4 linked regions of the Homo sapiens genome follow. The protein of the gene in region 3 interacts with the protein of the main gene of each other region in a pairwise test. Each region holds a gene or a part of one and is shown on either strand. Other genes may lie near its edges. The genes, in order: ARHGEF10, MAP3K11, KIF3B and CLCN5.

Region 1 (7,005 bases), on a different chromosome or scaffold from region 3:
CCTGGTTAAGGGAGAGAGCTGAAGTTCTCCCTCATGAATGACTAACAGCTACGCTTCCCTTCTGTCTTATTTCACGCCACTTACCTTTCTACCCAGGCAAACTATAAGCAACGCACGCATGAAACACAGATTCTCTGAGCATCTCCAGATCCGAGCTGTTCTTTGCATGCTTCCTGCCACACACTGTGCAGTAAACAATGACGGGCCTACAACAGCGCTTTCTTACATCTCACTATGACGTTTTCACATCGCTTACAGAATACAACCGTCATTAGCGCATTTCCAGTTTGCTCTAATTTATGCCAAACATCTTTGTTTTAAGCAGCACTTCCCCATACAACGCCTTCTAGCAACTTCGTAAGTGAGCACCCTCAAGTCCCGTGAGAAGTCTGGACTCACAGGGCCAGGGAAAAGCTTCCCCACCTCAACCCAGGTCTGTAACTCCACACCCTCCACACCACCCAACGCCTCTATCTACAACTCACACACGCGCACACACACACACACAAAGCGCACACACACACAGCACACACACAAACACACGCACACACAAACGCACACACATGCATACAAACACAAACACATACACAAAGACACACGCACACGTATGCACACACAAACTGCAGAGGAAAGGCAGCACACCAAAGCACCCAGAAGACAAATGTGGTTACATCTGGAAGTCAAGCATCAACTTTTAAAAACATAAAAAGCTATTCTGAATAACTTTTAACTTCACTTCACCCCCAACTGTCTACAACTAATGAATTACAAATAGCACCTTATACAAATGACTTTTCTTACTGCTGAGAAATCCTGGAGGTCTCATCTGTCTATAAAGAGTTATGCATCCGTAACTGCCGATGTTGGCTGCTAAAGCCAGCAAATAAATGCTGTGAGAGACAGACAGGGACAAAGTGTGTTTTTAAAAATACATGACGTGTAAACCTCAGTAATCATCTCTCTTTTCGAATAAAAATTATTTTCTATAAAGCAGGTGTTCAAAACATATTATTAATCAGCAACAGTGAAATTGTTCCTCCTTGCAGCATTCCACCCATATGGACATTAAGTCACTCCTGCACAGAATCTAGAATACTGACCAGTCCGTACTCAGGTTATGGTTAACCAGAGAAAAGAATTAAAACCCGTTACATCTTGAGTCAATGAGAATTTTTACTTGCAGCCAAAGTTAGTGACTGGAATCAATATCAGACAACAGCAAGTTCGTCTACTGCTGCCTGGGAACATGACCTACTGGCCACAGTCGGGAGGGGTACTCAGACCTCACCTTCAGTGCCCAGGGGCCCATGGAAGGGGAGTGGGGCTGGGACAGGTGGGCAGGGCGTCTGTGGACCTAGGGCAGTTTCCTCAGAATCTACCTTGGCTTCTTGGGCACCAGCGGGCTGTGGGGTGCAGGGGAACAGGTGGAGTACGGGGGGGACAGCTGGGGTGCGAGGGACAGCTGGGGTGCAGGGTAAACAGGTGAGGTGTAGGGGGACAGGTGAGGTGCAGAGGACAGGTGGGGATCAGGGGGACAGGTGGGGTGCAGGACAGTTGAGGTGCAGGGGACAGGTGGGGTTCAGGGAGAGAGGTGGGGTGCGAGGACAGGTGGGGTGCGGGGGAACAGGTGGGGTACGGGGAGACAGGTGGGGTGCGGGGGGACAGGTGGGGTGCAGGTGAACAGGTGGGGTGCGGGGGACAGGTGGGGTGCGGGGGGACAGGTGGGGTGCGGGGGGACAGGTGGGGTGCGGGGGGACAGGTGGAGTGCGGGGGGACAGGTGGGGTGCGGGGGGACAGGTGGGGTGCGGGGGGACAGGTGAGGTGCAGGGGGGACAGGTGGGGTGCGGGGGGACAGGTGGAGTGCGGGGGGACAGGTGGAGTGCGGGTGAACAGGTGGGGTGTGGGGGGACAGCTGGGGTGCAGAGTAAACAGGTGGGGTGTGGGGAGGACAGGTGGGGTGCGAGGGGACAGGTGGGGTGCGGGGAACTGGTGGAGTGCAGAGTTAACATGGGGTGCTGAGGGACAGGCGGGGTACACGGGGTGCGGGGAACTGGTGGGGTGTGGGGGGACAGCTGGGGTGCAGAGTAAACAGGTGGGGTGTGGGGAAGACAGGTGGGGTGCAGGGGGAACAGGTGGGGTGCGAGGGGACAGGTGGGGTGCAGAATAAACAGGTAGGGTGCGGGGGGACAGGCGGGGTGCGGGGGAATAGGTGGGGTGTGGGGGGGACAGCTGCGGCGCGGGGGACAGCTGGGGTGCAGGGTAAACAGGTGGGGTGCGGGGGGACAGCTGGGGTGCGGGGAACTGGTGGAGTGCAGAGTGAACAGGGGGTGCTGAGGGACAGGCGGGGTACACGGGGTGCGGGGAACTGGTGGGGTAGGGGGACAGGTAGGGTGCGGGGGAAAGACGCCGGCTTTCCTTACACCGGTCCTTCTCTGCATCCTGAGGCGGACCGCATTCTTCTCCTTTACCGGAAAATCTAAGTTACTGCACGACCCCCCAGGCGAAGCCAGCTCGCCCCTCGGGCTCCTTCCGCCGATCGGAGTTCGCTCCTGCCCCTGGGGCCAGGGGTCCCTGCTGCCAGTCCCTGCTCCCCCCGCCCAGGCCCGCGCCGTTATCCTGAGGGGCCGGGGGCGCCGCGGAAGGGGGAGCTGCTCGGGGGGAGGGGGTCTCAGCCCCTTCCCTGAAACATCTGCGCAGGGGGTCGGGGGCGCAGCCACCTCCGGGTGGGACCCAGCGATTTCGGGGGAGCCGGGCAGAAGTGCAACTCTCAAAGGAAACCAGAAGCCCGCGAGGGGACCCACGGTCCGCGGGGCCCGCACTCACCTCGGCGGCCAGGACGCGACCCGCAGTCCCCTGCTGTTCCCCGCCGTCCCCCGCTGTTCCCCGCCGTCCCCCGCTGTTCCCCGCCGTCCCCCGCCGTTCCCCGCCGTCCCCCGCGTCCCCCGCGTCCCCCGCGACCCCGTCCGTCCCGGATCGCGCGCCCGCCGGCTACAGGGATGCGCCCAGCCCCTCCCGCCCGGACGGCCTGCTCCACCCACCATGCTGTCATTGGCGGGCCCAGACCGTTCCGGGCGCCCATTGGCCGCAGAGCCTGCCGGTTTCTCGGCAGCGCCCTGCCCTCGCGCCCGCGCATTCCTTCGAGGCCACGTGGCCGCCCGCGCCCCCTCCCGCTGCCCAACGCCCGGCCCAGGCTGCGCACGCGTGGGAGGGGGCGCGCGGCAGAGGCTCCCGCCCCCGGATCATCTCCTGCCCCGCGGACCCCGGGCCGCGCTCACTTCGGGAGGGGTCGCTGGGCAGACCGAGTGCCCTCCCCGCCCCCAACATCTGGATCCTCCCCGCAGAGCCTGCTCCCGGCTCAGAGCTGCGCCCCTTGGGGAGGGTGCGCCGGGCAGACCCTAACCCTCTCCCAGAGCACCGCCCTTTCTGCGGACCCCCACGGGCTGAGCTCACCTGAGGGAGGGGGCGTCGGGCAGACGCTCCCCCCCCCAGAACATCGCCCCTCCCTGCGGACACCCGGGGTGCGCCCAGCCGAGGAGGGGGCGTCGGGACCCCACCCGACCCGCCCTTGAGCCCCCGTCCCTCCGTCCGCAGCTGGCCCTGCCCACAGGGCGTTCCGGGTCTTCCGCGCCAGCTGCCCTGGACCAGCCAAGGCTTGGGCGTTTGGAAATGCGATGACTTCAGCCACGTTTCCGAGGCAGTTTTTGAAGCTTGCTTCTTGCCAGGAAGCGCTCGTTTTTCCCGGGACCTTTCCAGGGAATGGCCCCTTCTGAGTTATTGGAATTGTTTACTTTGAGCATTTATTTGTCTTATACTTTTAAAAAGGAAACAGATTATCGTTATAATTACTATTAAAGAAAAAAAAAAACGAGAAACAAAGACATTTTTAACCAAAATAACTAAAGGATGTTATCTTTTACCTGGTCAGCACATTTAACAAGTGTGTTCGCAGATGCTAGATTTATTTCTATGCCTTCTCCTACCCAAATCTCCGAATCATAGAAGTAATTTTAAGTCAGTGTTTTAGAACTGTCAGACTTCTTAGAGATTTCTAGCCCCTTTCACTTGTTTTATAGAAGAAATACAAACAGCTATTTGGGATGCTAAGTATCACGAAATTAATCTAAACATTAACTGCCCTTAAGGCTTGTGTGCTCTGGAATAAGTTATTTCCCTGAAAATTTTGGACTATGTAAAAATCATAGCCAACATAGAAAGACTACAATGGCTGGAAAAAATAATCGTAGGTAAGGTGATATTTTTTCAATGTTTATTATTCACACTTGCTAATTTTATGAAATCAGACTGAGTTGTTTTTATGAATCAATTGAAAAAGGTATTTGCTCTCAGCGACCTTAAGATTAGAAAACTTATTTCAGGTTTCTATTCCTAGGGTTCTCTGGGTACCTTATTCAGAGATCTTCTGCACAGATCAATGGTCAGATCAATGGTCTTGATCAACAGAAGTAAGAAGGTCAACTAAATTAGTTCTTGTTTACCTAAATACGATGAGAAAATCCTGATACTTGTAGTGTTTTCTAAAAAGGTAGAGATAAGAGGAAATAGTCCTGTGTATGGAATAAACAACTCATTTTCTCAATGGATGAAATTGAGCCCCTAAACTCAGGGCCGCCAGGGACACCACTGAGTAGGGCCACAGAGCAATGCCTTCCAGGCAGGTTGGGCAGAAAATCCCCTGATTTGGAGCTCCAATAGATCCTGTCTGTCTGCTTTATTCAGGCGTTCCTCACAGATACATCCCTATTTTCGTAAGCCCGGATATGGAAGAGTTGGGATTTTCCATTGTGATTCCCTCTTTGACCCATGGGATATTTAGAAAAGTTAGGTTCACCTTTCAAATATATGGGGACTTTCTGGTTTTCTTTTTATTGTAACTAAAGTTTAATTCCACCGGGCCTTAAAACATCAGCTGTTTTATTTTTGTCGTTTAAGATTTTCAAACACTTGCTTCATGGCCCAACATTGTCTATTTTGGTAAATGTTCTATGAGCACTTGCTGAGAACATGCTTTCACTGACATAAAGTTCTACAGATGTCAATTAGGTCATATTTGTTACTGATTTTTTTATCTACTTGTACTTTTTATCTACTTGTACTTTTTATCTACTTGTACTGATAAGGGTGTATGAAAATCTTTGACTCTCCGTAGTCTATTCAGCATTGTCCTGCAGCATCTAACAAGTGTTGTAGGTCATAAAAACAAAAAGTGTAAGGATTGAGGGAGGAAAAACTGATTATTTACAGTCAATATGATTATATATGTTAAAAAACAAAATTATCTACAAATAAACTATTAGGATTAAAATAGAATTTAGGAATTTCAGATGGATCATAGACTTAAGTGTAAAAATTATAAAGTTGCTAGGATAAAATATAAGAAAAGATCTTACGGATCTTCAGGTAAGACAGAAAATGGACCGACCATTTAAAAATGATTAAATGGCTTATCAAAATTTAATATTTCTACTCATCTCATGACATCATTAAGAAAATGAAAAGGCAAGCCACAGACTGGGAGAACACAGGGGCAATGCATATATCCCACAAATGGCTTGTCTTAATCCACGTTGTGCTGCTGTAACAGAATACCTGGGAATGGGTGATTTACAATGAAAAGAAATTTATTTCTCACAGTTCTGGAGGCTGGGAAGTTCAAGATCAAGGAGCCACATCTGGCAAGAACCTTCGGGCTGCATCATCCCATGACGGAAGGTGGGAGGCGGAGGTGGGGAGGGAGGATGCAAAATGGGCCAAACTTATCTTTTTTTTTTTTTTTTTTGAGACGGAGTCTTGCTCTGTCATCAGGCTGGAGTGCAGTGGTGCGATCTCTGCTCACTGCAACCTCCGACTCCCTGGTTCAAGCTATTCTGCCTCAGCCTCCCGAGTAGCTGGGATTACAGGTATGTGCCACCACACCCAGCTAATTTTTGTATTTTTAGTAGAGACGAGGTTTCACCCAAACTCATTCTTTTATAAGGAGCCCACCGCCTCAGTCATGGCATTTATCCATCCATGAGGGTCATACCCCCATGACCCAGACACCACCTAGTAGGCACCTTCCAACACTGCTGCATTGGGGGTCAAGTTTCCAACACATAAACTTTGGGGAAAACGCGTTCAAACCATAGTCCTGGTAAATAGAGAACTCCTGCAAATGAACAATAACAAGACAAGTCTATTTCAAAAGGGACAAAACAATATAACAATAACAAGCCTGTAAATAACAATAACAAGTCTATTTAAAAATAAACAAAAGACGTAAATACTTCACCAAAGATGTACTGATAGCCAACAAGAACAGGAAATAGTGCTCAGTGTTACCCAAAGTAAACTCACAATGAGATGCCACCACCGTCATCCAAGCACGGCTGAAACTGCAGACCGACATGGCAAGGGTAAAAATGTGGAGCCCCTGGAACCACTATACAAGGCGATGAGAGTGCAAATGGCGCAACCACTCTGATTAATTGTTTGCCCATTTCTCAGCAATCCCACTTTTAGGTTTGCCCAAGGCAAGTGAAAACATAAGTCCCTTAAAAGACTTTTACAGCCAGACATGGTGACTCCCACCTGTAACCCCAGCACTTTAGGAGGCCAAGGTGGAGGATTGCTTGAGCCCAGGAGTCTAGCATGATAGTCTCCACCTCCAGTCCCAGCTACTTAGGAAGCTGAAGTGGGAGGATCGCTTGAGGCTGGGAGGTCAAGGCTGTAATGAGTCATGTTCACCACCACTGCACTCTAGCCTGGGTGGACAGAGCAAGACCCTGTCTCAAAAAAAAAAAATGATTTTTACAAGAATTCTTTCTTCAAAACAGTTCAAATACTTCGCAACTGGAAACAACCCAAATTCCATCAACAGGTGAACTCATAAAGTATTGTATCTTCATAGAATAATAGAATACTAATAATACAGTAATAAAAAGGAAGAAACTGATATGTTCAATAACAATGAATCTTGAAAACATGAAAAACATAGACAAAAGGGCA
Region 2 (7,025 bases), on a different chromosome or scaffold from region 3:
CCAGTTCTCCCCAAAAGGACTCCCCCTCCCAAGTGGGAGACCTGGCCCAGGCCTCCCAGAAAGGAGAAGTAGGGACCACGGGAGGAAAGCGGAAGAGGTGTGAGCTGCCCAGGCCACTCCCAAGCCCCACAGAGGCCAGCCCAGGGAGGGAGCTGGTGGCCAGGTCCCTATCAGAGGCCAGGGAGCCCTAAAGGGGCACTGAGAGCTTCCCCCAGTTTCGGGGTCTCTGGCCCATTCTCCTCTGGGTGACCCCTGACCTCCCATGCCTGGGATCTACATCAGACACCAGAACAGCAGTTCGAGTTGGGACAGTTGAAAGCACAGAGAGGAGCTTGGAGAGAAAGCAGAGGATGGGGCTTAGCAGCTGGCAGAGCCAGGAGCGGGGAGGTAGCAGAAAGACCACAAGTACAAAGAAGTCCTGAAACTTTGGGTGAGTTGTTGCCCCTCTCTGGGCCTCAGATTCCCCACCTGAAAAAGGTGGAGAGTGGCCACCCGGCCTGAGATACTGGAACAGCACTTTGCCAGTCTGGGGTGCCACAAGTGGCTAGAGACAGGCCAAGAAGCAGCAAGTGTTGGTCTTCAAAGGGGAAGGTGGGCCCTGGCACCAGGGGAGGTGCCCATTTCCACTCCACCCACTGCCCCAGCCTGCTGTGTTTCCCCTTTGGAATGAGCTTGTCGTCGGGGGCTTGCTAAATGCTCAGGTCCCCGCCTCCAGCAGCCAGACCAGAGGCTGTTTTGAAGTTGGCAGTAAGGAGTGACAGAGGAGGGAGAGGAGGGCGGAGATACGATAAGTGCTTTAGGACAACTGGCCTTTAGGATGCTTCTGCCAGGTGGCAGCCCCCATGCAAAAACTTTAAAAGTGTGGTCTTGTTTCATGCTCGTGACAGCCATCTGAGGAGGGTTTTGTTGTCATCCTCAGCTTGATGAAGTGTTCAGGACTCAGCTCCAAGGTCTGGCTCAGAGGAGTGGGTAGATTTTGAGACCATTCTCTGGATTAGGAAAAATTGCAGGAAAATCTACTGGGCATGCCGGGATAGTAAAGGTGGTCATGGAGGGCACCTGGACATCAGGTAGAGCTGCTGAACCAATTTGTCTGGCCTGGAGTTGCAAATGTGGAAGATGCCAGTGGGGAGAGGGAGCTGGTACCTGGAAGAGGCTGAGTCAGCCAGGGGCAGTGGGCAGAGGTTGAGGAGAGGTCATGCTCTGAGAAGCACCAGCGCCGAAATGGCTGAAGGTGGAGGACACAGAAACAGAGCCAAGCAGCCAGGGGCTGTGGGGGCTGAGGACGGTGGGGCAGCGGGGACAGCTGGCAGCAGTGCCAGATGCCTCCTCAAGGCCCAGGTGGCCTGGCCAGCAGCAGGATCAGGGCTTGTTGCTTTAAGCCCTGAAAAATGAGCACCCTGGTTCTGCCACCTCCTCTGGGAAGTCTTCCCTGACTCACCAGGCTGTATTAGGTGCCCTTCCCATCTGCCCCACCCCCTGTGCCCTATGCTGCCCCCATGACAGCCGTGTCACACAGGGCAGGAGAGCTGAGAGGTGTGCCCTGACATGGGTCCAGAAACATGGTTGACTTGATATTGCTTCTCTTCCACAGTGCAGTTGGCTGTAACCTGAAAAGTAGAGGGGCCCTTCAGACCCTTCATGACTCTATGACTTTGTCCTCTTTCTATTCCTCGAAAACTTCTCTCATTTGAGCCATTCCTGTCCTGGTGAGAGATATGCAAGTTGCTGCTTCTCCTCTTTGTACCAAGTACGGTGGCCCCATTTGGGTTAAAGCCATGAGCCCCTGCCAAGTCTGACCATCCACGCCTACATTTACCCCAAGCTCCTCCTTTGTGGCCAAGAACCATCACTTTCTTGGACCCCACCCTTTCTCTTCCCTTCCAGCTGCATTGGTAGGTATCTTTTGGAGTCTTTGCTTTGGGAGTGGCTGCACTTGCCACAGTGTGATGTGGGCACTAGGGGCCTGTGGTACCTGCTGGGCTTCTTTTCTCACCAAGAGCTTCCCTCTTGCTCCCCACTCTAAGGGGGGTTCTGATTCACGCTCCTGCCTCAACAAAATGACAGGAGACTCACAGATCTCTCTTGAAATCAAAGCCATAAATGTCCAGAGCTGCCACCTTGCCAGTTTTGCTTCAGTGTAATATTAGGGAAAAGCTAGAACACTGGTTTCAGAGCCACACAGACCAGGTTGTAATCTCTGCTGTATTTGTTGTATGACCTCTGCCAAGTCATTTCCCTGCTTGGTTTCCTCATCTGTGAAACATGAAAAATATTATTTAGCTCATAAATGGTTTTGAGTGCTGGGGTTGAGTGTGAAATGTTTGGCCTCGGCCAGGTGCAGTGGCCTGTAATCCCAGCACTTTGGGAGGCCGAGGCGGGCAGATCACCTGAGGTTGGGAGTTCGAGACCAGCCTGACCAACATGGAGAAACCCTGTCTCTACTAAAAATGCAAAATTAGTCGGGCGTGGTGGCACATGCCCATAATCCCACTACTCGGGAGGCTGGGGCAGGACAATCGCTTGAACCCAGGAGGTGGAGGTTGCAGTGAGCCAAGATCACGCCATTGCACTCCAGCCTGGGCAACAAGAGCAAAACTCTATCTTAAGAAAAAAAAAAAAGGAAAAGAAAAGAAATGTCTGACCTCAAGTAGGTCCTCAAGATCTAGACCAAGTCACCTCTGTGCCCCCAGGACCCAGCCAGGATGTCCGTCAGATGAGTTTGCTCCCAGCTCTTACCCTGTCCCCACCACCTGATCCTGGAGCATCCACAATCTGGCCCCTCTTCTCTAGTTTTGCTGCTGCAGCCCATTGAGAGTGACGACATGGAGCACAAGACCCTGAAGATCACCGACTTTGGCCTGGCCCGAGAGTGGCACAAAACCACACAAATGAGTGCCGCGGGCACCTACGCCTGGATGGCTCCTGAGGTTATCAAGGCCTCCACCTTCTCTAAGGGCAGTGACGTCTGGAGGTGCGGCCCTTGGTGGGGCTGGACGGGCTGCTACGGGGCTGCAGAGGGCAGAGGTGGCTGCCTAAATCTAGGGCTGGGCCAAGTCCAGGGACAGGGACCCAAACCACTTGGCTCCTAGTTGCTTTTGGGTGAAGTGGCAGTAAGGGGGTGGGGGTTGGGAGAGAAAAGGGAACACAGACCTGTTGTCTCGCCCACAGTTTTGGGGTGCTGCTGTGGGAACTGCTGACCGGGGAGGTGCCATACCGTGGCATTGACTGCCTTGCTGTGGCCTATGGCGTAGCTGTTAACAAGCTCACACTGCCCATCCCATCCACCTGCCCCGAGCCCTTCGCACAGCTTATGGCCGGTAAGAGGACGGGGAGGGCAGGTGAGGTACAGAGCTCCCTGGCCCAGGACACATCCACCCACGGACCCCTTCTTATTCTGTCCCCGCTGCACGCCGTGCCCCTAGACTGCTGGGCGCAGGACCCCCACCGCAGGCCCGACTTCGCCTCCATCCTGCAGCAGTTGGAGGCGCTGGAGGCACAGGTCCTACGGGAAATGCCGCGGGACTCCTTCCATTCCATGCAGGAAGGCTGGAAGCGCGAGATCCAGGGTCTCTTCGACGAGCTGCGAGCCAAGGAAAAGGTGCGAGGAATCAAGGGACCCAGCGTTGGAACGAGTGTCTCCCCGATCTCCCTGGGGCAGAGTCGGGGCGGGCGCTGCCGGGATTGGTGCCAGGCTGACCTCTCCACCATCGCTGTCTCGGGCGCAGGAACTACTGAGCCGCGAGGAGGAGCTGACGCGAGCGGCGCGCGAGCAGCGGTCACAGGCGGAGCAGCTGCGGCGGCGCGAGCACCTGCTGGCCCAGTGGGAGCTAGAGGTGTTCGAGCGCGAGCTGACGCTGCTGCTGCAGCAGGTGGACCGCGAGCGACCGCACGTGCGCCGCCGCCGCGGGACATTCAAGCGCAGCAAGCTCCGGGCGCGCGACGGCGGCGAGCGTATCAGCATGCCACTCGGTGAGGGCCGGGCCCCGGGGCGTCCCCCGCCATTGGCTGCGGGGGTGGGGGTGGAGCCAGGCCTGTGTGCTCACCGCGCTGGGATTGGTTTAGGGTGTTGTGGGTGGGCCCGTGAGATGAAGGCTGGGAGGGGTGGAGCCAGGAGTGTTTTTTTTCTGTCTGTGGGCGGGTTCTGGCGGAAGTATTTGCATGTCGGTCTGGGAGTGGGAAGGGGTGGGGTTCACGAAAGTTCTGGGAAGGTCTAGTGGGCGGGGCCGGCCGGCGCCAGGGCATCTCCGACTCAGACGAGTAGCTTTCCTTATCCAGACCCAGGGGCTCAAGAAAGCAGTGAGGCTGGTCACAGTCTCACAGCCATCGTGCCGCTCCCTATGTGGCCTGGGAGCTGGCCTTGGGCCCCTGCAGGTTGGGGTCCTGGCTCTACTTCATCACAAACCTGAACCCTGCTCCCCCCAACCCAAATCCCAGACTTCAAGCACCGCATCACCGTGCAGGCCTCACCCGGCCTTGACCGGAGGAGAAACGTCTTCGAGGTCGGGCCTGGGGATTCGCCCACCTTTCCCCGGTTCCGAGCCATCCAGTGTAAGAAACTTCACCTCTCATGCCCCTCTCCGCCCCCCAGCTCCTTATTCTCTGTCAGACCTTATTCTTGGAGGCGGAGCCCACTCACTATCCCCTCTTCCTCCCCGCCCCCAGGCTCCCTGCCTTAGGTCTAGCCTGTTACCTCTGAACTCCCCAAGCAGCATTAATTTTACTTATTTTTTTTTAGTCAAATAATTGTATGACACTATGTACTACTAATTTTCTAAATGCTTTGCTAATATTAATTTCTTGCAATAATTCTATTTGGTAGTTATTTTTGTTGTTAATTTAAGTTTTATGGATGAGAAAAGTGAAAAAAGTAACTTGTTACACAGTTAATAAGTGGAAGAGCCAGAATCAAACTCAGGCAGTTGGTGTCAGTGTCTGTACTAATTACTAAGCAGCAAACTTCAGCCCAAGGGCTAGATGAGATGCCCCACCCCACTGTTGGCCCCAAGACCCAAACCCATCTATCTTGCCCAAAGCTCACCCTGGGAATGGTACAGGGCCCAGCCTGCTCCCCATACTCTAAAGTTTATCTCTGAAGCCTGACTGTGATGATGGAGGGAGAATAAAGATTATCTCCGATTTCATCGGTTTCCCCTGCAGTGGAGCCTGCAGAGCCAGGCCAGGCATGGGGCCGCCAGTCCCCCCGACGTCTGGAGGACTCAAGCAATGGAGAGCGGCGAGCATGCTGGGCTTGGGGTCCCAGTTCCCCCAAGCCTGGGGAAGCCCAGAATGGGAGGTGAGTACCTGAGTGCCCCCCAGACCCAGCATCATTTGCTTTCCCCAAGTCCTGAAATTCCTAAAGCACCCCTCCTTGCCCTCCCATCACCAGGAGAAGGTCCCGCATGGACGAAGCCACATGGTACCTGGATTCAGATGACTCATCCCCCTTAGGATCTCCTTCCACACCCCCAGCACTCAATGGTGAGTGGCCTTCCTCCCCCGGCAGGATCTGGCTGAGCTCCTTCCGTGGGCACCTTGGGGAGGCCACAATAGGCTAGTAGGCAAAGCAGGAGTCCTGCCCTGGTTGCTCTCATTCTAGAGACTAGGAAACCAAGGCTGAGACAAGACAGAGCCGATCCTGGAACCCAGGTCTGACCTACAGGCCCACGATCAAGCGGCATACAGCCCAGGCCTCGGCTCGGGGCCCAGAGTCTCATCCCCTTGCTCAGACCTGGCCTGCAAGAAGCCTCTTCCCTGGCCCCATGGCAGCCCCTGTGCCTTTAGCAGGCTCCAGGGAGAAAAGAAAGACAGGAAGCCCACCTGGCATTTGGTACCCAAGGGAAGCTGGACCCAGATGGGGGAAGGAATCAGCCTGTGTGGGGTGGAGCCAAACAAGTGTCAGCCACACTGTGCTTCTCAGAGCCCCTTCTGGGAGCCTGTAGGTGAAGAAGAGAATGAGAAGGCCGAGCAGGCAGGATCCAGGACCCATTCTCACCACATCCAGGATAGCTCGGGGCCTTTCTGTTCTCCATGACGGTAACTGCCCTACTGTGCCAGGCATTCCCTCCAAGCATTGATGAAGAGGGGCTACTATTACCCCATTTTGCAGATAAGGAAACTGAGGCTCTGAGAGGTGAAGTAACCTACCTCAAACCCCCAGCTGAGGATTTGAACCCAGAGAGGCTTCAGCTCCAATGCTCTCGTAGTGAGCTCAGAAGCTTTCACTTGAAGAAAGGGCTTCTCACGTATAGACTGCTTAGGAAGCCAGAGGGTCAGGCAGAAGGCAGGGCTCCAGCATTGCAGGGAGGAGGGCTCACTCAGCTCAACACTGCCCAGCTCTGAGTGAGGCCAGAGAGTTATGGCCTCCCTTGCCTGTGGGTCCCTGTGCCAACCTAGGGACCATCCTCAGAGCCCCCACACCTGCTGCTCACAGCCAGAATGTAGGACCCGCTTAGCTGCTCTCAGAAGAGTCCTGTTCAGCAAGCCGTTTAAACTCACTCCTCCCATCCCACCCAGCCCATCGCCTCTTCCATTCCCTGAGCTACACTTGATAGTTGTAACAACAGCTAACCTTTGTTGGTTCTCTTCTATGTGCCAAGCAGTTCTGTGAGGGGAGTAGTAGTATTGGCCTGCATTTTACAACAGAGAAAACTGAGGCACAGAGAGATTAAGTGGTTTGATGTAAGGCAACCAGTAGAGCAGGGATTTGATCTGCTCTTGCCTGTCTGACCACAGAGGCAGAGCCCTGGGCCTCCATCTGCCCCGCCATTTGCTACTCCAGCAGCTGCACTGCCCCCAGCATCTGTCCTGCAGGGACTGAACTGAGAGCTGGAAGGCCAAGGAGGCTTCTTGAATTCACTTGCTCTAAATTGTACCAGGCCAGATGGGCCAAAGGAGAACTTGAGAGCCTGTCAACCCAGGTGTGTAGGCTGAAGCAGGTCCTGACTGTTCCACAGAACTCTCTGGCCCTCAGCTCCCAGAAGCAGGGGCACAAGGGGCCTGGGCCCCATCGTTCTCAAGCTTGC
Region 3 (7,696 bases):
GTTCCACCTCCCCGGTTCACGCCATTCTCCTGCCTCAGCCTCCCGAGTAGCTGGGACTACAGGCGCCCGCCACCATGCCCAGCTAATTTTTTTTTTCTTTTAGTAGAGATGGGGTTTCACTGTGCTAGCCAGGATGGTCTCGATCTCCTGACCTCGTGATCCACCCGTCTTGGCCTCCCAAAGTGCTGGGATTACAGCCGTGAGCCACCATGCCTGGACAGCTTTACCTTTCTTTGCAACCCATTGTGGCACATGATTACAGGTTCCTGGGGCCAACTGTATAAAAATATCAACATTTATATAATGCCATGATGGCTACTGTTTCATGCTTGCAATGACATTATGGTTGACGGACCTGGTATTATCACATACTTTAATTTATTCTTTCACCAACCATACACGGAAAATACAGCACAAGCACCACGTTAAACCCAAATAACGATAGCTAATGTTTACCAAATATGCTGGGCACTTCACATATATTAAGTTCAAATAAATCCTCAGAACAGCCATACATGATAATAAGGCCACAGGTAATAAGGCCTATTACTATCCCCATTTTACAGATGAGGAAACTATACCACCAAGGGGTTCAAAATGAACTATGAATAATTCTTCCTCACAGAGCCCCTTACCAAAAAGTCCTCTCATCATTTCAGAGGTACTGAGCATCATTTCAGAGGTAAAGTAGCACCTCTTTGCTCAGTAGCACACAGCTTGGAAGTGGCAGAGCCAAGATTTTAGTCCAGGTAGTCTGATTGCAAGCTTTTAACCACAACTGCATAACAGCACTGAAAGGGCCTTCAGTATAATCTAGCCTAGTCCCCTCATTTTAATGAGGAGGGAATGAGGGACAGAGAAGCCCTCTTTTAAAGATTCCAGCTCTCAGGCTGGGCACAGTGGCTCATGCCTGTAATCCCAGTCCTTTGGGAGGCCAAGGCAGGCGATCACCTGAGGTCGGGAGTTTGAGACCAGCCTGACCAACATGGAGAAACCCCATCTCTACTAAAAATACAAAATTAGCCGGGCATGGTGGCACATGCCTGTAATCCCAGCTACTTGGGAGGCTGAGGCAGGAGAACTGCTTGAACCAGGGAGGCGGAGGTTGCAGTGAGCTGAGATGGCACCATTGCACTCCAGCCTGGGCAACAACAGCAAAACTCCGTCTCAAAAAAAAAAAAAAAGATTCCAACTATTTTCTGAGATCCTCACTTTGGGTGGTATCTATTTAAATAAAGCTTTACCTGAGATCTTGTTTCCTTGCCTTTTAACTTCTAGCCAGTTAAAAGTAACAAAAGAATACCCCTGTGGCCTTATAATAGCAACTGTTGCAAAATCAGAGGCAACAGTGAATGGGGGATAAAATACAGGATTTACCTAGAAACACGTCCACTTCCATCACTTAATAGATACAAGATTCTTAGGCAATGACTGGGTGTGGTGGCTCACGCATGTAATCCTAGCACTTTGGGAGGCCGAGGCAGGTATATCACTTGAGGCCAGGAGTTCGAGACCAGCCAGGCCAACATGGTGAAACCTTGTCTCTACTAAAACTACAAAAATTAGTGGACGAGGTGGTGAACATCTGTAGTCCCAGCTACTCGGGAGGCTGAGGCAGGAGAATCGCTTGAACACACGAGGCGGAGGTTGCAGTGAGCTGAGATCGCGCCACTGCACTCCAGCCTGGGCAACAGACTAAGACTCTGTCTCAAAAAAAAAAAAAAAAAAAAGGATTCTTAAGCAGGTCCTTCCCTTTACTTTTCTGAACCTCAGTTTCCTCATCGGCAAAATGAGGATGACATCACCAGGCACCTGGCAAAGTCTACATAAAGATTAAATGAAATAATATGCCTGGTAAAGTGCTTCTTAATCATATGCTTGTAAATAGTTATTACTGCTTTAAGCACTTCCCAAAGGACACAAAGATGCCTTTTTTCTTCTGGAAGGGTCAACGAAGCCCAGGTAGAAAATGAGACCATGACCCCAGCTATCTACAAGGGGTTGACCTCAAAGAGTTTCCCAGGACTACTTGTAGAAGTACCTCCCTTGCTCTGAGCAGAATGGAGAAGTAAAACCGGGGTTGGGGGTTGGCATTGCAGTAGGACTACCCATATGAGCTGGCACTCTACACACCTACACCTTACCTGTCCCAAAGTCATCTCCTCCTGGAAGTCTTGCCCTCCTACCCTGGACGCCTCATAATAGCTGGTTGAGCACTTACTATGTGCCAAGCTACTTGACATACCCAGTCTCACTGATTTCCACAGTAGTCTATTACCTCATTTCACAGATAAGGAAAAGAAGACTCAGAGAAATTAACTTGCCCAGGGCCACACAGTTACTAAGTGGAAATGCCACGTCTCTAACTCGCTCAGACTTCAAACTGCCCTCTTGGTCTCCCATCTAGGGTGCCCTAAGAATTCTCCCTCTCCCCATTTAGGGCACTTTCACATACACTTCTCATTATCTTTACCACTCTGAGCAGCAATGTTAGGACCCCATTGAATAAACAGGTCAGCTAAGGCCAGGGAGGTGAAAAGACTTGCCCAAGGTCACACAGCAAGCCCAGCACAGCGCCGAGGTTCGGACCCCAGGCTCTCGCTTCCCCGCCCTCCTCCCAAACTGGGGCCCTGACCACCGCCTCAGGGCCCCCAGGTGGGCTGCGACCCAAGGTGGCCGTGTCTGGGGGTCGGGCCGCGACCCTGCCAGGGGAAGGAGGGGCAAGGCCGTCCGGACTACCAAAGGATGCCTAGGAGGCAGGGCAGAGGATGCTCCGGCTCGCGGGACAGCAAAGCCAGGCAGAGGCGCGGGCGCAGGTCGCAGGGAAAACCCCAGGCGGCCACAGGATTAGCCCTGCTCGGTGGGCGCCCGGCCCCTCCGACTCACCTGAGGCCCGAGCCGAAAGCGGGCGGCGGCGGCGGCGGCGGCGGCGGCGGCGGCGGCGGGGGCGGCGAACCCCTGGCTCAGCCATTCCCCGCTGCCCCGGATGGGGAGAGACAGTGGCCGCTCACTTCCTTAGCAACCTGGCTCGGCGACCCACTTCCTTAGCAACCGGTGTCAATTTCAATAACTTTATTGGCACACGAGCAGAGGACAGGGAAAGCCGGCTGGAGGGGTCTGGGCGGGGCTCAGGTCGGTGCTGGTGTTTAGCGGGGGCCCAACACACCTCGGTCTCCTCACCCACCTAAGCGGGGAGAGTGGCGCACAACGTGGCCTGACTCCATCCTCTGGTATCTCGTGCCTCAGTTTCCCATCTGTAAATGGAACACACGCGATTTCAGCCGCCGTTCAACCTTTCTAAAAGCTTTCACATCCATTATCTGACTGGTGTCTCAAACTGCTACTGAGGTAACTCCCATTTAGGGTGCCCCCAGTGACTCAATACGAACACCTATAGGCACCCTTGTTGTAGCTTTCCTGTCCTTCACCCAATCCAGTCAGTCACAACCGCCCCAGGCAAGGCCAGGCCACGCTCATCTCTAGCCTGCCTGAAATATCTGGTCTGTTTCCATTCTTTTGTCCAGCTCTGTCCGAACAATCCATTTTCCATAAGGTGGCCAGAGTAATTATTTAAAACAGATCATGCGGCCAGGTGCGGTGGCTCCCGCTGTAATCCCAGCACTTTGGGAGGCTGAGGCAGGTGAATCACCTGAGGTCAGGAGTTCGAGACCAGCTTGGCCAACATGGCGAAACCCCGTCTCTAATAAAAATACAAAAAATTAGCCGGGCGTGGTGGCGCATGCCTGTAGTCCCAGCTACTCGGGAGGCTGAGGCAGGAGAATCGCTTGAACCCGGGAGGCAGGGGTTGCAGTGAGAGAGATGGCACCACTGCACTCCAGCCTGGGCGACAACAGCGAAACTCCGTCTCAGATATAAAGATTAAAATAAATAAATAAATAAATAAATAAATAAAACAGATCATGCCACTTTCTGATTAATACTCGATTTAATGGAGTCTCATTGCTCTTAGAATCAAATATGAAGTCCTTATTACTTCCTGCAAAATTCGTTAAAACTCTATTCCAACCACACTGGCCTAGAAGGGCAGGTTCCAACCCCCATGGAACTTACACCTGCTGTTCCCCACTAAATAGAAACTGCATAAGAGCAGTCTTTTATTTGTTCACTCTTGTATCCACCATGCCTGGAACCAAGCTTAGTCAATAGTAGTTGCTGAACAAATATGTTTTGCTCCTTGAATAAATGAATACCTGAGATGGTCTTCTTCATCTGCCTACAACTACTTTTTGCCTGTTGTGGCAGATATTGCTACTTCCTCTCAAAAACGTTATTTCTTCCTGCTCCTGGACACACAACTAGACAGTATTTCCCAGCCTTCCTTACAGTTCAGACCAAGTTCTGGCCAATTAAATGTGATGTGTGCTATTCTCAGGCCTGGCCCATTAAAACTCCCACATAATTTGATTTACACTTTCTCTACAGTGAAGAAGTTTATTTTTAAATAAAATAATAAAGGAAATACCAAAAGAGACTGCACCCAGCCTCTTTTGGTATTTCCTGAAGCTAATAATTGCCTCATTTTTTCCCCCCTTTCATTAGCTTTCTTTGCAGATATTGTTAATTTTTTCCTATGTGGTTAATAAATTAGACAAAATAATCAGCAGTGATTTTTCCAGATGTGTAACATAACAATTCGGCTAGGCATGGTGGCTCATGCCCATAATCCCAGCACCTTGGGAGGCTGAGGCAGGCAGATCACCCTGAGGTCAGGAGTTCAAGACCAGCCTGGCCAACATGGAGAAACCACGTCTCTACTAAAAATACAAAAATCAGCCAGGAGTGGTGGCAGGCACCTGTAATCCCCACTACTTTGGAGGCTGAGGCAGGAGAATTGCTTGAACCTAGGAGGTGGAGGTTGCAGTGACCCGAAATAACCCTATTGCACTCTAGCTTGGGTGACAAGAGCAAAACTCCATCTCACAAAAACAACAACAACTTAAAAAAAAAAAAAAAGTTCATGAGTTCTCTTTTGTTTTTTTCTCCTGAAGGCTTCAGCTCTGATCTGGACCAGTGCTCTCCAGGCCTACTGCACAGCTGTCATACTGAACTTTCCTATATCCTACACCTGGTTGGGATTCCCTGTGCCCTGGACCTTGTGTCTCAAACTTCTAGATTGTGGATTTACTCTGTCATCTCTGTGCAGCACATCTTTCTGTAGATTCCTGAGAAAGGTTGCAAAGAAGCAAATATATTTAGTCCTTGTATGTCTAAATATGCATTTATACTGTTTTCACACTTGATTAATAGTTTAGCAGGGTATAGAAATCTAGGCTGAAGGCCAGGCGCCATGTCTTATGCCTGTAATCCCAGCACTTTGGGAGGTCGAGGCAGGCAGATCACCTGAGGTCAAGTGTTTGAGACCAGCCTGGCCAACATGCTGAAACCTTGTCTCTACTAAAAATACAAAAAAAACATTAGCTGGGCATGGTGGCACATGCCTGTAGTCCCAGCTACTCGGGGAGGCTGAGGCAGGATAATCACTTGAACCCAGGAGGCAGAGGTTGCAGTAAGCCAAGATTGCACCACTGCACTCCAGCCTGAGCGACAGAGGGAGCCTCCATTTCAAAAAAAAAAAAAAAAAAGAAATCTAGGCTGAAAATTATTTCTCTCAGAATTTTTAAAACATTGCATTATTGTTTCTAGTATCCAGATTTAAGACATCTAATGCCATTCTTAATCCTGTTGCTTTATATGTGTCTTGTTCTTTTTTTATTTTTAATCTTTGAAAACTTTTAGGCTATCATCTTTATCCATAATGTTGTATTTGATGATGACTCCCCTCAGTGAGGCTTTTCCTCACTTGTGTTAGCTGGGCCTTTTCAATCTGGAGACTTATATCCCTCTAATCTAGGAAATTTTCTTGTATTATTTTTTCGATAATTTTCTCCCCTCCTATTTTTTTTTCCCCTGAAACAGTGTTGTGCTATGTTGCACAGGCTGGAATGCAGTGGCATGATCATGGCTCACTGCAGCTTCAAGTGATCCTGCCACCTCAGCCTCCCGAGTAGCTAGGACTACAGGTGCATACCACCATGCCTGAGTAATTTTTCTATTTTTTGTAGAAATGGGGTCTCACTGTGTTGCCCAGCTGGTCTCAAACTCCTGGGCTCAAGCAATCCCCCTGCCTCGGCCTCCCAAACTGTTGGGACTACAGGAATGAGACACCAGACTTGGCTCTCCCCTCCATTTTTTTCTCTTTCTGGAATTTCTCTTAGTCAGAAGTTATACTTTCCAAACTGAGTTTCTAATTTTCTCTGTTTTTCTCTTATTGTCCCTCTTTTTGGCTCTTTTGTTCTACTCTGTGGGAGATTTCCATCCATATCTTTATTTTTAGTGTCTATCTCTTCTATGGAAGAATCTGGGCTCACCTTTTAGTCATCAAATCAATATTCCCTGCAGACATTTGGGTCATAACTTCCTCCCCCTGTTAAGTCAGTTACTACTTCCCCTTCTGTCCCTGTTTTCTAAAAACTTGCTGAAATCCCTGGGCCACTAATGTCTCCTTTTCATTCCTATTCATGTTCTGGGTTAATACATTTTTTATTCCTTATTGCCATATAGATGGGGTTCGAGGGAGAAAAAAATAAATACGCATCATCAATCCACTATGTTTAACTGGATGTGTTTACTGCTATTTAACAAAAATGTATTGTGTTCTTCAAAACAGCTAGAAGACCTGAAATGTACCCAACACATAGAAATGATAAATACTTGGGTGATAGATAACCTAAATACCCTGACTTTATCATTACACATTCTATGCATGTAACAAAATTGCACATGTACCCCATAAATATGTACAAAAACTATTTAAAAATTTTTTTAAACAGGTAGGTAAAAGGTATGAACAGATAGTTCAGAGAAAAGGAATAGAAAATATTGCTTTTAAACATAGGAAAAGGAAAGATACTTATGCTTACTCATATTAAAGAAATGAAAATTAAAACAACTTTTTTTTTTTTTGAGACAGAATATTGCTCTGTTGCCCAGGCTGGAGTGCTGTGGCGCAATCTCAGCTCACTGCAACCTCTACCTCCCGGGTTTAAGTGATTCTCATGCCTCAGCCTCCTGAGTAGCTGGGATTACAGACATGTGCCACCATGCCTGGCTCATTTTTGTATTTTTCAGTAGAGGCAGGGTTTCGCCATGTTGACCAGGCTGGTCTCGAATTCCTGACCTCAAGTGATCCACCTGCCTCAGCCTCCCAAAGTGCTGGGATTGCAGGCATGACCCACTCACTGCACCTGGCCGAAAAAAGAACTTTGGTAAGGCATTGTTGATGACGGTCTGGTCTTGATTCTGTCCTTAGCAAGCTGAATAAAGCTGTGTATTGAAGTGGGATTAGTAGTAGTAGCTGTACAGTTGTAGGGTGACTAACTTGTTCTAGTTTGCACAGGTCTGTCCCTGTTTTAGCACCAAAAGTTCCATGTCCCAAGAAACTCCTTAGTCCAGGCAAACTAGGATGAGTGGTCACCCTAGTATGATGGGGTAACTTCTATATTACCAAGTATGTTTCCACTCCTGGCATTTCCTTTCCATACTGTGTCCTCTTTTCCATCTAACCTGGACTGTGAGGTATTTATTGCTCAGAAAAGAGTTATTTCAGTAGAAAAATAGAGAAAGGACTTTCTGAGCCCCAGAATCTTGGGGAGGAGACTCAGGGAATGAAAGAAGT
Region 4 (6,160 bases), on a different chromosome or scaffold from region 3:
ACACTTGGTGGAATTACAGAGCCACCATCATCATTCCAACCACTATTTCATTTTCTGTAGTTTTACCTGTGTGCAATTACTCCCCCTCCATTCTGTTCCACTTCTTACTCCTTAGTACCAAATCCTCTGTTTGGGATTGAGCGCTGCTCCTGGTTAATCATTCCTACTACAAAAAAAAATAACTCCCAGGGCTAGTTAAATTGTAAACCAAGGCTCAGCAGTCTCACAACACATGGACCAGAGGTGACACACAGCCATTTCCTTTGCCATGTGGCCCAGTTGCTGCTGCCATGCCTCCATTTCCACACTGGATGCCTACGGCAGTGAGATTTCACTGCCGGGGTAAGAGTTCAGCCTGGATGATTTTATAGCTCTGTTCCTAGCACTTCTCATCATCCTTCCAGCCCAGAATCAGCGGTCATTCTGCATATTCCCACCAACCCTCTACCCCCAAACACTTCAGTGTACCTCATTTTAAGAGTTGCTGATCCCTGATTCTAGGACGTTTTTACCCATAGTTCTTGTCTTTCCAAAATCTGAAATTCTTTTTTTTGCTCAGAACTGGGTAGCCAAGGGTTATTTTATTTTTATCTTTAAAATAATCAAGGCAGTCGCTAGAGTTTCTCCTTGTGAATAGATCACTCTAGCATTTTAATGAAAAAGAAAAAAATCTTTCTGGGGTATGTTGTATCATAGTAATGGCTCAGTAACCACATATTTTGTCCTTTCCATGTCACTGATTCCTTCATATGAGACTATTTGGCTTGACTACCCTGTATATTGTGTAGAAATCAAAGTTCTTATCTGTACATTTCTGGTCCAATACCTGTCTTATTAGTTGTCCTTCCCCACTAAAGTTTGCAAAACAGAAAATGTTACTATTTCTGGTATTTAATGACAATGAAAGGTTTGGTCATATTTCATAGTGCAGTAGCGATAAGGAGGGTGTCTCAAGTTTGCTTTTGTGTTTCTTCTAGGCTTTGTTCTTGATTTTAGACAGATGAGCCAGTGTTAAGGTGCTACTTCAGAGAATAAATTAGAGAAATCAGATAACACTGTGCCAAGGTATACTTTGTAGATGCTAAGCACCGATTGGCCCTCCAGAGAATGACAATATCCCTTTGATACCTCACTCCTGATCAATCTCATTCATTAACCTCAGCTTCTCAGGAATCCTTGTAGCTTGTATGCTAGAAGTAGCTATGGTATATGGTATCCACTATATGTCCAGTCCTATGGTTTGGCTCAAAGGTTGGCTAATTGCAGCTAGAGCTCTCAACTGCTAGCTCAGCACCTTGACATTTGAAGTTTCTTGTCTTGAGGAGAAGGAAAATGTTCTTTCTGCCATTGCCACTTTAACAGTTGGACATGCTTAAGCAACAAATACAGCCAGTATAGGGAGGACTGTCAGTAGCATCAAATGGCCACATACCTCAATGGCAAAAGACTAGATGGTTTGTGATTTAAAAATTAATGAGTCGAGATGAGACTATTTTGGTATTAAATGAGAAAATTGCCTAACACAAGGGAAGGGTTTACAAAAGAATGCCAATTAGTGTTTCAACAGAGTTAGGATTTTCCAAGTAAGAGTAGCTGGTAGCCATCCAGCCATAAAAGGAACGAGAGTCTATAGATTTGTAAAAGTAAAACTGCTATATTTTGTATCTTCAAATCTTCAATATAAAGAATTTAAAGAACCTGAAACAGTTAATGCATGATTCGTTATATTGGAGGGAAAAAGCAGGGGACTGATAATACAAAATAATGGCAACTTTAAAGATCATTTCTACGTGGATGTTTGGTTAGAAACATATTCCAATGCTCTCCTCTTTCTCTGGCCACAGCATCCTGGCTCAGCCCAGCTGTGGAGTAGAGGTGGTAAGATCCACAGAACAGATATCCTCTGGTAGATAAGCTGACATTGATGATACTTTGAATTTACCAGCTGGTGAAGCAAACGATTAATTTGTGATTGAACTGAAAAGCAGTTGAATTGTTTTGACACCAGAGGCTGAATCTAAACCCTTTACAGGAAGAGCAGAGCATACTATACATTTCTTAGCAGATCTTCAATTCTGTTTGAACATGATGAAGTAACCAGGGTTTAGTGAGATCTAAGGCCGTGAAGTAATTCACAACCAAGATCTTATGAACGCATTCAGATGTGAGGGGGGCAAATATGTTTTCAAAAACTTAGTGTGCAATAGAGTCCATTATAGAAATTAACCACTGCTATATGTTTTAAGTAGTTCAATCACCTGTTGTGGTTCAGTCTTGATTATTGTTTATTTTGTTAGGTGATAAGTAGGAAGATGCACTTGTTATCCCACACTATCTCTTGTTTTGTTTTGTTTTGTTTTTAAATAATGAACAGTGCAATCTTTGAACTTGAGTTTTTAATAATGATAGCAAAGACAATGGTGAGAACTTGAAACAGCCAGCATATTTTATATTGCCAAAGTACTTACTGATGACTGACCACACTGTCTTGTGAGGAACTGGGTCCCCTGCACTGGATCAGAGCCAAATGCAAGCCACCCATCAGTTCAGAGGAAGCAGGAAAACATCTTTTGGGTGGTGCATAGAACATTGAGCTCTTAAAAACCCGGAGAAAAATTAGGAATTTAGAAAGTAAGTGGGAGGTAGAATATTGAGTCCTTTTTTAAAAAAAAGAATTGATGTCTAAATATGTAGTCTGAACTTAAGTGTCCTAAAACCTTGTTTTTTGTTTTTTTGTTTTTTGAGGAGTCGTCTTGCTCTATCACCAGGTGGGAGTGCAGTGGCACAATCTCGGCTCACTGTAACCTCTGCCTCCTGCCTCCCGGGTCCAAGCAATTCCCCTGCCTCAGTCTCCCAAGTAGGTGGGACTACAGGCGCACACCACCATGCCCAGCTAACTTTTGTATTTTTAGTAGAGACGGGGTTTCACCATGTTGGCCAGGATGGTCTCGATCTCTTGACCTCGTGATCCACCCATCTCGGCCTCCCAAAGTGCTGGGATTATAGGTGTGAGCCACCGCACCCAGCCAAACCTTGATTTTTTTAGCCACCTCTGGGATTGCCTGGGTTCCCTTTGGAGAAGAAACTAAAAGTTATGGCCATAGAAAAAGCCCTGGTAAGAAAATATTTGAATGGTGTAAGATGGTGGAAGGAAAGCCATCCCACACCCCTACAACATATGTTCTGGCATTTATAAACTGCTTGATTGTGTGCCTCAAGGGGAGAAAAAGTCAAGCAATGCTTCAAAGGCCAGGCTTTCTAAGCAAATGAGTGGTTCAAAGCAGTGTTTGGCTCAAGGGCAGTCTGGTTTTATGGATAGGGCCGACCCAAGACATCTGCTCATGAAGAAATGTGGCATCTGTTGCCATTTCCTAAACTATAAGGTTTAGATAGATTGTCTTGAATTTTGATAGCAAATTTTTTTAAATTTATATTTCTGCCTCCTCGTACATCCTTATATATGGAAAAAAAAGTAAGAGTTCCTCAGATCAGAGCTCAGTAGCTGTGTCAATTTGAAGTTCAATCAGTGTAGTTGTCCTGGGGTGATCGCTGACTCTGCTCTGTTTCATATTTCAGTTGCTTGCTCCAAGGAGAGAATTTCTGAGAACAATGGGTGTTAGCAACTTTAAGTTACTCCCCAAACGTTTGCTGGCCACATTCTCATTTCTAAACATCTGGATCTGGGTAAAGGTTTGAATAGATGTAGGGAACAAAATTGGTTTTTCCATGGTGTAGTCTAATTTTGCCAAATCACCCAAGAAAGAAAGTATATGACGTGTGGAGTTTGCATTTCTTGGATGGGACCTATCGGGTCACCCAGCCCAGTCTTACAGTCATAAATTCCTACCTCTTAGTTCCTGCCAAAGGGCCTTCAGCCTCTGTGTGCACACTTATTGAATGAATGCTTTGCCTAAAGTTTGGCCTTTTGAAGAAAAACAGCATGTGATAATATAAAAATATGAGAGTTTAAAAAAAAAAAAGATCTCTGCCTCTCTTCTCTCTGCCTCGTCCCACCTTGCTGTCTGTCTCATTGTCTTTCTCTCCCCTCACCATGCGCTGAATTCAGATTTCTCTTTCTTTTATTATAGGCATGTTGTTTTGAATGTGGACTTTGTGGGAGGGAGAGGATTGTTCTGAGAACAGAAACTGGAAGATACGTCTGAGTTGATGGGACCAACAGGGCTTTGCTCCTCTGTGAGGGCCAAAGCCATTGATACTTGTCGGGGGTGATGAGGGCTTTAGCATCTCAAGGCAGACATATGAAGTATTTACTGCTAAACTATATTACTTACTAGTACAAATCTGTTGGAATTCAGGGGCAGTCTAAGATTTGGTGAGTGAAATGCCATCTGGCAAAATCGAGAAGAGAGTGTGGCCTGAGAGGGGAATGTTCAGCCTCACTGTCACATTAAGGGTACCTCAAAATACATGGTCCTTCCAGTGTGTTCCTTTTCCTTCCTCCATTTCACTTTGTCCCCTCTTCTTCCTTTCTCTCCCATTTTCCTGGCTTTTTAGCACTCAGCTTTTTTTTATAAGTATGTATTTACTTTTTATTATATATTTGGTCCTTTGGGACTTTGTGATGATTAAGAATTTATTCCATTCAGGATTTTAAAATGATGTGTTTAATATTTTGTTCTCTTAAACTCTTTTGAAGCTATGCTGCTAACCAGGTATAGGCCAGAAAGGAGGTGGCCCAGTCAGTACCTTGCTCACGTCAGCTAAGGGGGACAGTGATGTCATGTGGGTGACTCTTCTTCATTTGACCAAGGCCAGCCTCCTGTTCTTACCTCTGCCCATTCATTTCTGGCTATGGGAAAACTACCACCTGTTGAGTGAGCCAATGAGGCCAGGAAGATCAGAGGGGCTGGGTTCCGGCCCATGGGCCACTATTTGAATTTCTCTGTAGTAAGCTCTTTGTAGGGCTGGCTCCAACTGCAGTAGCCAAAGAAAACCTGTCTGACTCGACATTTTAATGCCTGAGAGTTGGTGAAAGTTCAGCTGAAGCTAATGTCTAGACATCAGCAGTAACTAGGCATCCAGAAAGTAGCTTCAACCAAAGCTAATAGAGCCCAAGTTTCCGCAGGAAGTTTGGTGCTGAGCTGTCCAGAGCAGTTGTTTATCTGAGTGTTGCTAGCCCTTAGCCATGCTTTCTTAGCTTTATTCTCGCCTGTTCCTAGGCATAGCCTGAACCAGAGCTATGGCTCACTGCTCGCTTTATTCTACTCCCTAGTCATGCGGAACAACATAGTCTAAAAAGGAAGATGTGGACTGGGGAGTTAGGAGACCTGATTTCTATTCCCTATGCTTCTACTAACTAGCCTCGAGATCTTAACCGCTCTGTGCCTCAGTGTTCCCATCTGCAAAATGGGGATAGTGTTAATTGCCCTACCTACCTCACAGGGTTGTTGTGAGGATAAACTGAGACAATGAATTCAAAGCAAGTTGACAAGTAAGTGCTATGCAAATTGTAAGAAATGGAAACAATCATGTTAAAAGCAATGGAATGGACATTGGCAGAAGGGTTAATGGATTGTCCAGCCCTTTCTCTGTGTGGCTTAAACCCAGGTCGCCATTGCTTTATACATTTTCACTTAGCACAGATTTGTAATTATGCATGTAATAAAGCACAGCCTTATCCACCCTGGTGTCTGGTGTGTTTCTAAAGACCCTAAACTTGGTAGCTATTGATTTCTGATCAGAAAACCACAGGGGCAGAGTGGAAGGTTCAGGGGAGGGTAGCACAAAACACAACTGCAAACCCCTACTGGCAGGCCCACTGCTTAAAAAGATTTATTAAATAGTTATTTTCACATTTACAGACTCAGTAATACTCTTTACCATAAGGAGGCAAATAAGAGGCAGCTTGCGTTTTTGGAGATGTTCCAGATACCCGGATACCTCATTCATTGTGGCTACTTAAATGTTCCTGTCTCATACATTGGTGATACTTTCCTGATGATGTGAGAATTGGCTGGGAGCTGTATTTTTCTCTCTCTTTGAGCTCTTAATGATGTAAGGTCGTGGGCTTTGACAGGCCTCTTGCCTACAGCTACTTTGTACAAGGAGGAGGATGGGTAATCAAAACGGTCCTCCCATGAATACTAGGATTCTTAGTACCCTCTTTATGGTGTATTGGGATTAAAATGTCTTCTGTACG

Evidence for each region.
Region 1: the proteins of KIF3B (region 3) and ARHGEF10 interact in binary tests that used the Homo sapiens proteins (3 or more experiments, as listed by UniProt).
Region 2: the proteins of KIF3B (region 3) and MAP3K11 interact in a two-hybrid assay, tested with the Homo sapiens proteins (one study listed by BioGRID).
Region 4: the proteins of KIF3B (region 3) and CLCN5 interact in binary tests that used the Homo sapiens proteins (3 or more experiments, as listed by UniProt).

Annotation. Positions count from the first base shown.
Region 1 is NC_000008.11:1,819,932-1,826,936, reverse strand, and holds the start of ARHGEF10 (rho guanine nucleotide exchange factor 10), read right to left. Parts: upstream 3,012-7,005; 5' UTR 2,824-3,011; intron 891-2,823; exon of another isoform or gene 827-890; coding exon of another isoform or gene 802-826; intron 1-801. UniProt on the Homo sapiens protein: May play a role in developmental myelination of peripheral nerves.
Region 2 is NC_000011.10:65,604,217-65,611,241, reverse strand, and holds part of MAP3K11 (mitogen-activated protein kinase kinase kinase 11), read left to right. Parts: intron 1-2,793; coding exon 2,794-2,974; intron 2,975-3,171; coding exon 3,172-3,320; intron 3,321-3,425; coding exon 3,426-3,601; intron 3,602-3,728; coding exon 3,729-3,972; intron 3,973-4,437; coding exon 4,438-4,551; intron 4,552-5,160; coding exon 5,161-5,296; intron 5,297-5,389; coding exon 5,390-5,481; intron 5,482-5,599; coding exon of another isoform or gene 5,600-5,649; intron 5,650-7,025. UniProt on the Homo sapiens protein: Activates the JUN N-terminal pathway. Required for serum-stimulated cell proliferation and for mitogen and cytokine activation of MAPK14 (p38), MAPK3 (ERK) and MAPK8 (JNK1) through phosphorylation and activation of MAP2K4/MKK4 and MAP2K7/MKK7.
Region 3 is NC_000020.11:32,272,956-32,280,651, reverse strand, and holds the start of KIF3B (kinesin-like protein KIF3B), read right to left. Parts: upstream 3,002-7,696; 5' UTR 2,887-3,001; intron 2,535-2,886; exon of another isoform or gene 1-2,534. UniProt on the Homo sapiens protein: Microtubule-based molecular motor that transport intracellular cargos, such as vesicles, organelles and protein complexes. Uses ATP hydrolysis to generate force to bind and move along the microtubule. Plays a role in cilia formation.
Region 4 is NC_000023.11:50,093,589-50,099,748, forward strand, and holds the end of CLCN5 (H(+)/Cl(-) exchange transporter 5), read left to right. Parts: 3' UTR 1-5,642; downstream 5,643-6,160. UniProt on the Homo sapiens protein: Proton-coupled chloride transporter. Functions as antiport system and exchanges chloride ions against protons. Important for normal acidification of the endosome lumen. May play an important role in renal tubular function.